Linked DNA regions of Homo sapiens: all the other regions are linked to region 2. The links come from fine-mapping of genetic effects on gene expression. A gene starts in region 2. Each other region holds a variant in brackets. All regions are shown on one strand. Distances are between the middles of the regions.

What was found. PIP is the estimated chance that this variant, and not a neighbour inherited with it, causes the effect. A credible set is the group of variants that fine-mapping cannot tell apart.
Region 1: its variant is the best candidate, but not a certain one, in a credible set for the expression of HMCN2 in gastroesophageal junction (GTEx, PIP 0.72).
Region 3: its variant is the best candidate, but not a certain one, in a credible set for the expression of HMCN2 in cerebellum (GTEx, PIP 0.66).

What each region holds. Positions count from the first base shown.
Region 1 is chr9:130,292,367-130,296,571 of GRCh38, reverse strand. It overlaps HMCN2 (hemicentin 2), which reads right to left. Exons shown (of 98, transcript NM_001291815.2): 5 at 1,546-1,717; 6 at 800-906. Among named protein-coding and RNA genes, the nearest start is that of HMCN2, 29 kb to the right of the region's middle. The variant C/T (reference allele first, on the strand shown) is at 2,656.
Region 2 is chr9:130,263,912-130,268,116 of GRCh38, reverse strand. It overlaps HMCN2 (hemicentin 2), which reads right to left and starts at 2,357. Exons shown (of 98, transcript NM_001291815.2): 1 at 1,980-2,357. The coding sequence starts at 2,238. LOC124902285 (a long non-coding RNA gene) reads left to right here and starts at 1,228. Exons shown (of 2, transcript XR_007061817.1): 1 at 1,228-1,701.
Region 3 is chr9:130,297,707-130,301,911 of GRCh38, reverse strand. It overlaps HMCN2 (hemicentin 2), which reads right to left. Exons shown (of 98, transcript NM_001291815.2): 8 at 2,624-2,887. Among named protein-coding and RNA genes, the nearest start is that of HMCN2, 34 kb to the right of the region's middle. RefSeq lists an enhancer at 1-534. The variant A/T (reference allele first, on the strand shown) is at 2,290.

The sequences.
Region 1 (4,205 bases), 28 kb before region 2:
AATCCTCCTGCTTTTGTAGACACATGGGCAACTTACCTCCTCCCAAGGGGCCCAGCACGATGCTCCCCAAATGAAGGAGCTGAAGCCCCAGCTTACAACCCAAACCTGAGCAGCCCTCTTGAGGCTGTGTTGCCCCTCAGCTCGCCTCAGCCCCGGCAGGCCCTGTCTGTTCCCGTGAATGTCTAACTCCCTGCCTTGCCCTCCCCATTGGCATTACAGCTCTTGGCTCAGAGGTGCTCAGAGTTTGAAAGGCAGGAGGTGGTACTGCCACTTTACCTGCAACACCTAGCACAGTGCCTGCAGAAGGTGCTCAATAAATGTTTGCCTGGTCAGCAGGAGCCCCCACTCTTCCAGGGCAGCAGCCTGCCCATCCCAGGATGCTCTGTTGGGAGCCAAACTGGCCCACAGTCCCTGGCTCCCAGCACCCTGTAGATTATAGCAGGGCCCTCCTCTTCCTGCCAGCCCTGCCCCACTGAGCCCTCCCACCAAAGTTGCTGTTGCTTCTTTTACACATTCTTCACAGCTTGGTTATGCACCTCTGAACCCTGAAGTCATTTCTCCAAGTCCTTCTTAAATGTTCCCAAAGTAACCCCAAACCACTCTATTTCTTCCTACTGGTACAAGGCAAAATGCCCTTTCTCTGTCCTTGACCCGTTACTTCTATTGATACGACCACATCACCACCCACACTCTAGCCATCAGCTTCCCGAGGCCACAGGCTCCCCAGGGCAAGTAGGAGGAAGATGGTTCCAGCCCAGTAAAGCTAGTCGACCTTTCTCCTGCAACCCAGTGCCCCTACCTTGATGGACCACAGCCCCGGATGCTCAGGCTTAAAGGCTACGACCTTGGCCGAGTCAGGGATGTTGAGAAGCACGTTGAGGCCCTCGTCCTCCTGCAGGATCCTCCCTGTGGAAGCCCCAAGGGCTGCTCAGTCCCTAACCCTTTGCTGGGGGTGGCAGGAGCCCCGCATGTCTCCAGGAATCCACAGTACACCAAACACTAGCCTCAGTCTTCCCGGAAGTGACAAGGGGTCTTGGTGGTCCTCGGCCACTGCCTCACTCCACGCTCCACCCTCAGGGATCCCCAGGGGCAGACTGTGTGCCCGGCCTCTAGACCTGGGTGCTCATGACATCCTCAGAACACCATGGGGTCAGGTGACCATGTCTGAATCACACTTCCCCTGACTCTGTTGACCTTGATGAGCACTCAGCACCTGGAACCCCAGCTTCCCATCTGTACAATATGCTACAAGTTCTCACCACCATGAGAATCCACTGGGGTACCACGGAAAAGACTTGGGGAGAGTCTCACGATGCAGGGACCGCCATTACTTTAATTCCCATCGCCGGTTGCTATGGCCCTCCTGCTTCCTCGCACACCATGGGCGCCCTCTCTCCACTTCGTGTCCCCCCCACCCCATATTTCCCTATTCCTGGAGCCTCATGTCTGAAGCCCTGTCACCCTTGGTCTCTTTCTTTGTCCCATCCTGGGCTTCCACCTCAGTCTTGGGGCCAAAGAGGAGGCCAGCCCCGGGGTGGTCCATACCCAGCGGATCTTGGACTTCAATCTCAGGCCCTGGCCCACTCAATGAGATGGTGACCTCCTTCAGGCTGGGGTCAAAGGGGAGTCTCCATGTGTGCTCCCCCTCCTCCTCGTGGTCTGTGGACAGCAGGTGCACCTTGGAGGCCTGGATCGCTGACTCCACCCACTTCAGCACCTGGAGGCAAGTATGAGGAGCTGATGCCGGCAGGTGCCCACAATGTCTTCCCCCTCCCATGGATTTTAGGCAGCATACAAACTTTCCAGGTCGCCCAAGGCCACCCCACTCCTCCATGTCCAACACCAGGCCCAATTCACACATTGTGACCCTCCTGGCTTCCATAGGCTCCAAGCTGTGAAGCCTGAATTGAGGCATTCGGAGGACTCAGCACAGAGGGAAGGAGCAAGGGTGTGTCCCTCTACTGGGAAGACTCTTCCACACTTCTCCACCTGGCCTCCTTCCACAGCACCCACACTTCCTCCAGGAAGCCCTCTTGGTGCCTCTTACACACAATGAACCCTGGAGATCTGGAAACTCCCCCAGACCCATGTAGTTCATGACTGATTATCCCAGGGGCCTCCAACTGTGCTCCCACCAGGGCGCCACGTTCCCTAAGCAGGACTGAGAGGCACTGCTGCAAAGACTTCAGGTCTCTTTCCAGTCCACAGAAGTAAGGAATTGCTGGATGGATTTTTGCAATATTGAGAAGACCTAAATCCTTGGTTTCTATAATTGATTATTCATTCTAAAGTCTTACATCTTTTGGACAAGTGCCACTGAGAATCAGATAAAAGGTAAGGACCCTTTGCCTGGGATATCATCCTATCCCTTAGGTACACATTTAGGGTATGACTTCGGGAGGTTCCCAAACTCCCTCAGAGATACTCCCCCTACCACAAACTGAGCACAAACTTATTTAGTTTCTCCAAATCCTGACCATGGCCTTCAAGACCCTAGGTTCTATGGTCCTAGGCACCTATGCCAACCCAAGGTCACTGTGCCACTGCCTCCCCCTGCCTGCTACACTGGACCCCACCCCTCCCGCAGGCAGCCCCCACCCATACATGCCGTGTTCTTTGCAGGAATGCCCTGCCTCCTCATCGACCATCTCCTTG[C/T]TATACTTCAGCTCGCTGCTTGAAGAGCCCTCTCTAATCCTGAAAAGGCTCTGTTCCCTGATACATACTATTTTGCAGCAATCTGCACTCCAGTCATTCACATTTATTGGATTCGGGCTTCTCATCCTTACTGGCCTGGGATCTCTGTGGGGGCAGAGAACCTCTGCTGTGCCCATGTGTGTCTCAGCCCTGAGCTCACTGCCAGGCACAGAGTGAGTGCTCAGGAGGCACCTGCTGGCTGTGTGAGTTCAGTAGGACATGCATCTCCTGGGCAGAGCTATCAGGCTGACCTCAAGTCCACCTCTCAGGCACCTCACTCCATACCCCTCCTCTCCCCAGCTCACACCTCCTCCTTTGCAATAGCCAAGTCACCTAGATTCCAGCAAGGAAACCAAGACAGAGGGAGAGGAAGGGAGCCCCTTCAAGTCTGGACCTTCTCTTTCCAGGCCAAGTTATCTCAAAGAGCGTCCATCCTGTGCAAACCCTAAAACTGAAAGACAGTGAGCTCAACCATAAAATCGGTACCACAACCACAGAGAGAAAAGAACATCTCCAAGTGAATTCCAAACCCGGCGGTTCAACTATCCTTTCTCAGTAGGAGGACAACAAGAACCGCAAAAAAAAAAAAAAAAAAAAACTTTAGTGAGTAGATTTTATTTGGAAGAACTATCAGCACTGTGATTTTGAACCCATTTTATATATCTTGTTGGATAAAGCAAATAAGTAAAGATGTCAATATTTTCAGAATCAAGATTTTTTTCTTATAAACAAATGTAAGAGACAGCTGCAAGTATCAAATCAAATGAGCTAAGTAAAAGATCTACAATGTGAAATTTGAATTGGAAATATCAGTATAAGTTCTCCAGATAGAGATAGATGATAAATTGATAGGTAGGTATATAGGCAGGTAGGTAGGTAGATAGATAGATAGATAGATAGATAGATAGATAGATAGATAGAGCAATTGATCCAGAAGCAATGATGGCCCAAAGTTTCAATAACAATGATCACCACCAGTACCTAGATCTTGGTTTCTAAATACCATTCCCCACGAGGGTTCCTTGGAGAAGTGGCTAATTCCAGGTCTGGGGCAGGCAATTTATAAGGTGAGCCTGGGATGATGGGTTATTCCATAAAACAAAGAAGTTCTCAAAGACAAATAGGGACATATCAAAAGGACATAGGAACCAGCTTGAAGGAGCTCCCACTGACTAAATTTGGGACAACTTGAGCCCAAAAGAGAATAATAACTGTGCTCAATTGAAACACATTGAATAATATAATCCATGTGCACATAATGATACTCAAAAAAGAGAAAGCAAAATTCAAAACAGTAAAGCCTCCCTTGCCACAACTGAAGTGACTCCTTAATCGAAGAGAAAGAACTAAGTGTGATTCCGTGCCTTTTCGACAGAAATTGTACTTCAGAGAAACCAAATTATCCGTCACTTTTGATGCATAAAAGTTCTTCTTCTTGGAAGAATGCCCACTCATAAATGTGGGAGGAATGATGCAGTTAGGAAATCATCATTTTGCAACCCCTAATGAAA
Region 2 (4,205 bases):
CTGCTGGGCCACTGGAGCCACATATTTCAGAGACAAATGTGGGTTATGATTCAGGAATGACGCCACCCTGGCAGGTGGCCTTGGGAAAGTCTCATCAGTGTCCTGAGCCTCAGTTTTTCCAACTGTAAGATAAAGGGGTAGATTCAACGATCTCTAAGCTCCTTCAGTGTGATGTCTTCGGAAGCCCCAGAACAATTCAGAAAGTGGGTGAGAGAGCTGGGGAGACGGAGGGTGACCTGTGTTCCAGCTTAAGTGCCAGAACACACTTCACAGCCCACCTCCTCACAACCCCCAGCTTGGTTGCCCCCTGACTCCAAGATAGAAGCTGTCCATCTGATGTTCCTAGAAATCTTTGTCTAGAGCCTTGGCTTCTGAGCTTTGAGCTGCAAAACCCTGTGGTGCCCAGAACTCCTGGAAGCAGAGGGGCCTCCAAGCCCCTAGACCACAAACTCAGCCTGAAGCCTACGTAGAACTATGTCTTCCCACTGTTTTGTCCATTTTCTAAGAACCTGTAATGGTATTGTGATTAATAAATGCAAATCCCTCTGCAAGGACTTGCTGGCTCATACAGCCAATGGCCACCGTCTATTTCTTCAGCACAAGAACACTCTGCAGTACAATTTAGCAAGGAATCTGTGCGTGTGTGTGTGTGTGTGTGTGTGTGTGTGTGTGTGTGTGTGTTTTATTTGGGGGGGTTGTTTGTTTGTTTGTTTGTTGCTTTATAAAGCTATCCTTGACAGAGGGGTGAATGATAGAGAGATGTGATAAAGCAAAATATGACTCAGAGGCTCTCGGTGGGCATAGGCGGTTCCATGTATGTTTCTCCCCATTTTACTGTAAGTTTGAAATTTTCCATTAAAAAACGCTGGGGAGGCTGGGTGCAGTGGCTCATGCTTGTAATTTCAGCACTTTGGGAGGCCTAAGTGGGAGGATCACTGAGGCCAGGAGTTTGAGACTAGCCTGGGCAATACAGAGAGACTCCATGTCTATAAAAAATTTAAAAATCAGCCAGGCATGGTGGCGTATGCTTGTAGTCCCAGCTACTTGGGAGGCTGAAGCAGGAGGGTCACCTGAGCCCAGGAGTTCGAGGCTGCAGCGAGCTGTGATCACGCCACTGCACTCCAGCCTGGGTGACAGAGCCAGACCTTGTCTCAAAAAAAAAAAGAAGTGTGGAAAGCAGTCCTGCTCCTCGCCGCTGGGAACCTGCAGCTCACTCAGCAACCGCTGTCCCTGGGACTCTCTACAGTGGAGCGCCCAGGGACCCTTTCAAGGGCGCCCCTAACACTGAGCTGCAAGGCAGGGGGTTAAAGGGGAAGCAGAGGTGCAGCGTGCAGGGAAGAAGGAGTTAGGGCGGAACTCAGCTGTGAGAACACAGCAGGTGGAGGCCACGGGGCCAGCACACGAGAGGCGCTGCCCTTTCCCCAGGGAAGACAGGCGAGGGGACAAGACCAGCAAGGGTGAGTCCGCTCCCCACTGCAGGGTCCGTGGTGGACCCCATTTCGTCTCAAGGCCTGCCTCTGGGAGCCATTCCGGTCTCCAAGCCTCCGCTGGGAGCGAATTCTAAGAATTGGCCAAAGGAAAAGCCCTGCAAAGGCTCGTAGCGTCCCAAGTCCTCGAGAGGAATGCCTCATTTCAACATCTCAGCAAGTCTGGGAGGCCATCCTCACCATTTCATAGGTGGGGCCGGTAAGGCGCGGGAAGGTGAGGTCACTTGCTGAAGTCTCACAACGGCGCGGGAGAGCAGGGAGAGCAGGTTCCTTGAGCGAGGGAATGTTCCAGGGGGGTGGGAGGGAAGGGACAGCTGCAAGGACTGCCCAGGTGGCCAGGGTACCCGCAGCGCGGATATGCCGAGAAGGCGCGCCCGCCAAGCCGCGGCGCAGCCCACGACGTCCAGGTGCGTTCGGGGCCAACTGAGGGGGTCAGGCAGGTGAGAGCACCTCGAAGGGGGCGCCCGGCGGGCGGGGGTGCGGGGGCGCTACCTGGGTCGTGGAAGGGCACCAGCGCGTAGTTGGCGATGGCCTGGCTGCGGCGGCTCAGACTGCGTTCCAGAATGCGCGAGGCGCCATCGATCACCTGCATCAGTTCGTCCCACATGGAGCCGGTGACGTCGAAGACGAAGGCCAGGGTGGCGTCCCCCGTGGTGGGGGGCATTACCGTCCCGGGCGCCCCGGCCACTGCCACTGCCACTGCCGCAGAGACCGCGGTCAGCAGCCGCAGGAGCGGCGCCCCGGGCATCATGCCGAGCGCGGCTCTGGCTGCGGGTGCTGCGGTGGAGGCGCAGGTCGGAGCTAGCCGGCCGCCCCGGTGCACACGGCGGCTGCAGGCAGTGCCTTGCTCCGTCGGGCCGCGGCCAGTGCGCGAGGGATAGGGGCGCGCGGCGGGTCCGCCTGCTGGGCGCCCGAGGCGGGTCCTAGAGCCCACCCCGTTCAGGGTCACGGCCCGCCTCCTCCCCTCCCCCAATCGTGACTCAAACTTTCCCAGCCCCACTGTTCGCCCGTCCAGATCCGAGGTTAGGGGAGGACGCGGGGCGGAAGGCAGAAAGGAGCTGGGGCCCCGGCCAGGGCAGCGAGGGATGGGGACGCGCAGGATGCAGTGGACACCTGCGCCTCCCGCCGATGGCGCGCCGGGGGCGGGAGAGAGGGAGGGGGAGGCGCAACGGCCCCAGTCTCCCTCCAGCCCCAACTCCCCCCACCCCTGCCTGGCCAAAGCGGACCCTGGCTTCTGCAGCTCCCTCCACCCAGTGCTGCGACAAATCCCCCCACCCCCGCCCCCCAACACACACACAAACTTTGCCATTCGTTTTCCTTCTGCCAGGTGGGCTCTGTGCTTCCCGGTTATTGCAAGCACTACTGCTATTATAATCAACAAGAAGTCTTGTTGTTAACCATGTTCTAAGCATTTTCAGTTATTTGCTTGAAGACTGGCTGCAACCCTAGAATGAAATACTAACCCTAAGCCCATTTTACAGAGGAGCAAACTGAGGCTCAGAGAGGTGAAGGCATTTGCTCCAGGTCACTCAATTATCAAACAATGAAGACAAGATCAGAGGCCAGATCTAGAAAGACTCCAAAGGCCCAGGGCTCTGCTGCCTCCCTTGTGTTAAAAGACATTGTCACACGGTCACCTGGTGACTCCAGAGGATGAGGGCTATCCTCCTGCCCATCCACCTCCCCAGCCCCATGGGCTGCATGTGTGGATGCTGCATCCCACGTGAGGTGCTGCCTGGGACTGGGTTCAGCCTCCTGCTCCGGGCAGATCCAGATGGGCTCAGGCACGGCTGCTTATCTCAGGCTGTGCTCTCGGGACCTGTTTCCAGGCCTCTCTCCCCGCTGGCCTATAAGCCCCTTGAGGGCACGGCTAGGCCTTGGTCTACACTGGATGAGCCCCTAGTTCCCAGCCCATATCCAAGCACATGGTGGGGAGGCACTAATGTTGTCTGAATAAATAAACCGCAGCTTTTGTGGAAATGCCGGGTTTTGAGTCATGTGCGAGAAGGTAGCTAATCCCCTCAATCCCTCCTCCGAGAACACCATGCTCCCAGAGACATGGCTGAGGGCTCTAGGTCTGTGAGTGATGGGGGGCGCTTTCTTGAGCCCCTGTCCCTGCAGAGTCGTCAGCCAGGAAGCCACCCCTCCGCCACGCTCTTCCTTTCCTCTTCGGTCTCAGCTCAGACCCCACCTCTGAGGCTGCTTCTGAACCCTTGCCCTGCAACCCACATTTCTCTGAGCCCTGTCCTGGCTCTGACCACACCGTACAGCCCATGTCATGTCTGGGGCCCTGCCTCTCCCACTCTGGCTGTGAGTTCTATGGCAGAGATCCTGTGCCCGGCACATGCTAGGTGCCCAAGGAAGGTGTGCCACCTGAATGGGGCAGCAGGCATCAGAGAAGCTTGGCAGCTGGGCATTGGCCACAGCGGGAGGTAGCACACATCCGCAGGGACTCTGTTCTAGCCCAGAGCTGGGGTCCGAGGGAAATGGTCTCCCACGGAGCTACCAGTCTCGTGGAATATAGTGCCACCAGGTGCCCAGACCCAGCAAGGGAGTGGAACTTGCAGCCAAGTTCACAGGAAGTTGAGTCACCTGCACTTCTTAATGCTGGCTCTTTAAATCTCCCTGGGCTAAGTCTGTGATAACCCCCAGAGTCTGGGCAGGGCTGGGCCAGCTGTTGGAGAAAGAGGTCCCAGCTGTGGGAAGGCAAAAGCCAAC
Region 3 (4,205 bases), 34 kb before region 2:
AGTCTCTTCCCTTGGCTATTGGAATTACTTCAATGGAGAAGTCTGAGAAACTGCCCCGCTGGGTCAGCCATGGCCCATCAGAGCTGGGTGCCCCCTGGCAAGGGCTCAACCTTTGTGTCACCGTCTCCCCATCCCCGCCAGCAGAGGAGCCCAGCAGAGATGCTCCGGGAATGAGACAATGCACTAGACCTCCTCGGAGCCCAGGCTGGGGATGGGAAGGCGGCGGTGACATCATGCTCCAGGCTCCCTGCCACATCTGTCCCGGGGGGGGAGGGGTGTCTGACCATCCAGCCACGTCCTCGGCTGTGTGCAAAGCAGTCGCCACTCACCCACGCACCCTGGGAGCCTCTGCCAAGCCAGTTTGGGCTCCCCATTTCCATGAGCTAAATGGGACCACAGGCCCACCCTCATCTCTCCAAACCCAGAGCCACCTGCTACAAGGCGAAATTCCAGCCTCCCAGACCTGGAGGGCGGGGAAGGAAGCAAAAATCCAAACCAAATCCCTTCCCCAACTTTAATCTAGAGCTGAGATAGAGAACAAAAGCCAGAGCTAAACTCCAAACTCTTGGATCCATCTGAAAGAACAGGGGAAAGAAAATAGAGGCTGTTATTCCCTCTGCTGAAATTCCTTCCTGAAAGTTCCTCCTCAAGGCTGCAAAGGCCAAGGGAAGAGAGGCCCCGGAACCACAGTAGGGGAGTGGAAGCTGGGAGGCTGGAAAGAAGAGGTCTCCAGCTCTCCTGCCCAGCCCTGCCTTGCCCCACCCAGGTCCTCAAAGTCCTCCACCAACCATGGGCACTGTAGGCACGATGGGCACCGTGGCCAGCCTCAAGAGCTGGCCCTTCTTCCCCTCCCTGCATCCTTATTTGAAGTGGACAGAGGAGGATGCCTCTCACTGAGATCCCCCACAAAGAAGTACTAGAATGTTAATGACATCCACCTTTGTAAGCTCCCCTCGGGCCACCTCCAGGGGAGGGAGACAGTGGGCAGGAGAAAGGCAATGAAGCCAGCAAGGAAGCCAGATGGCCAGTGGCCCTAGACATCCCTGTTAGGACCAGGGGCAGACCTGAAAGGCCAAAGATCCACCCTTCTCCCTGGGAGCTTCCAGCCTGAACGGTGAGACCTCAGGGACACACAGGAAACCAGCAAAAAGCCACACATACGGGAACCAACAGACCATGGCCAAAGATTGGAGGACAAAGTGACCTGTTCCTGCAATGATGTAACGGTAACAGCAGCTGCCACACTGGAGGGCCCTTGCCCACAAATGGATACATTCTGAGTGCAGCCTCTGAGGACCCAAATGCTGTCTTGTTGTGTGCATTAGCTTGGGCACCCCCACGGCAGCCCTGTGAGCTGGGTGGGCTCAGTTTCCTTATCTATGAAGTGGGGACACATCTCTGAAAAGCTGTAAGCATCAGTGAGCTAGCACATGGCAGGAGCTTGGCCCAGGACTGCCCCATGGAAAGTGTCCAAATGGTGACTCGGATGATTGTGATTATGACAGTGATTGTGATTATGGAAGAGCAAAAGTCCATGTCTGCCCTGCCCACTGCTGTGTCTACAGTGCCTAGCACCATGACTGGTACATAGTAGATACTCAAAATGAATGCTGAGTAGATGGATGTGTGGGTGGACAGGTGGGTGGACGAATGGGTGGATAGATGGATAAATAGATGGATAGATAGGTGAATTAATAGTGAATGGGTGGGTAGATGGATGGGTGAGTGGATGAATGAATGGATAGATGGATGGGTGGGTGGATGCATGAATGGGTGAGTGGATGGATGCATGAATGGGTAGATGGATGGGTAAGCAAATGGGTGAGTGGATGGGTGAGTGGATAGATGGGTAGGTGGGTGGATGCATGAATGGGTGAGTGGATGGATGCATGAATGGGTAAGTGGATGGATGCATGAATGGGTAGATGGGTGGGTGAGTGAGCGGGTGGGTGGATGGATGAATAGGTGAGTCAATGGATGCATGATTGGGTGGGTGGATGAGTGCATGAATGGGTGGGTAGATGGATGGGTGAGTGAATGGGTGGGTGGATGGGTGAGTGAATGGGTGGGTGGATGGATGAATAGGTGAGTCAATGCATGCATGAATGGATGGGTGGATGAGTGGATGAATGGGTGGGTAGATGGATAGGTGAGTGAATGGGTGGGTGGATGGGTGGGTGGATGGGTGAGTGAATGGGTGGGTGGATGGATGAATAGGTGAGTCAATGGATGCATGAATGGGTGGGTGGATGAGTGGATGAATGAGTGGGTAGATGGATGGGTGAGTGG[A/T]TGGGTGGGTGCATGAGTGGATGAATGGGTGGGTGGATGGGTGGGTGAGTGAATGGGTCAGTGCATGAATGAATGGGTGGATGGATGGATGAATGGGTAGATGGATGAATGGATAGTTGACTTGATGACTTTGTTCTAAATCCTTGAGCTGAGAGCCACATCTGAGCATCTTAGTATTTAACATAATGCCTTATAGGGAATAGCTGTCCATAGAAGCTTAATGAACAAACACTTTCTAATCTAATTTAATCTAATCCAGTCAGGGAAGGCTCCAGGATGAAATGGGACTCTGAATGAGCCAGGGGCCTGGGAGACAAAAGAGCCAACCACTCACCTGGGGCCACCCCACTGTAGGACACTCCAGAGACACGAAGGAGGGGGTTTCCCTCATGGTCCTTGCCCTTCACCTTGAGGTAGAAGCGCTCCTTGGGGGTGTGGAAGGGCGGCCCGCCCCACAGCTGATGGGTGGAGCCATTGGAGAGGGGCTTCGTGGGCAGAGTCAGGAGGGGCTTCCCTGAGCTTTGTGCCAGCTCCACCGAGTCTAGGCGGCCGGGTGCCTTCAGGCCCGTGGAATTGATCACCAGGGAGATGGGGACTCCTGCAGAGGGAAGGTGAAGAACAAAGTGCTGGCGTCAGTGTCTGCCTCTGTGATCCCCCTCAAGTAGGGGCCCTCGAACCACACCCCAGGGGTCCTGCTTGCCTGGCCCTTCCTACCTGGTCCCTCCTTCCCTACCTACCCTGGTGCTGACCAACGCTGGGGGTGGGATAGGTAGATAGGGACCTTGCTACTGTCCGTGGTGCTGAAACACCACAGTCGTCCAACCACGGCTTCCCAATGGCTGCATCCCCTCTGACTGCACTGAGTTGGAGTCCCATGGAGTAGAACTGTCCCCCACCCCATTAACTCTGGTGTGGGCCATAATCAGACAGGCTTCAGGGAATGGCCTCAGATAAAGCAAACACCAAGTTTGGGGACTCCAACTTCTGACCAGACTCTCCCCGTGTTCAGGTTTTCTTTGGTTTTCTTTACTGTCTTGATGGAAATGTGGTACTTTTCACACTATCCCAGAAGAGGTAGAACTGGACTCCAATTTCATAATGTCTTTTTAAATTTTCTGTCATCCAGGCTGGAGTGCAGTAGTGCAATCACAGCTCACTGCAGCCTCAAACTCTTGGGCTCAAGCAATACTCCCACCTCAGCCTCCCGAGTAGCTGAGACTACAGGTATGCACCACTATACCTGGCTAATTTTTTAAATTTTGTAGAGATGGGGTCTTGCTGTGTTGTCCAGGCTGGTCTTGAACTCCTGGCCTCAAGCAATCCTCCTACCTTGGCCTCCCAAATGTTTCTCTTTAAAAAAAATTATCTTGGCCTGGCATGGTGGCTCATGACTGTAATCCCAGCACTTTGGGAGGCTGAGGCAGGCAGATCACCTGAGGTCAGGAGTTCAAGACCAAACTGGCCAACATGGCAAAACCCTGTCTCTACTAAAAATACAAAAATTAGCCAGGTGTGTAGCGCGCACCTATAATCCCAGCTGCTCGGGAGGCTGAAGCAAGAGAATTGCTTGAATCCAGGAGGCAGAGGTTAGAGTGAGCAGAGATCGCACCACTGCACTCCAGCTTGGGTGACAGAGTGAGACTCCATCTCAAAAAAAAATTATCTTGGATATACATCTTTATCAAGAGCAGAAACCCAACAGGGTCGCATGTGGCCTCCTGCACCCACTTCCACTGGGGACAGGCCAGTTTTCAGTCCCCGCGCCATCACTACACATAGGATATCTTAGCTCTCCTGGCTTAACAGTAGAATCAAAGTTTCCCTGCTTCTTCCCTTTCTGCTATCGGCAAAACAAACAAACTGAGCAAGCAGCCCCTTTTCACTTTCAAGATGTGACTCCTGGTCCTGGCAGGAAA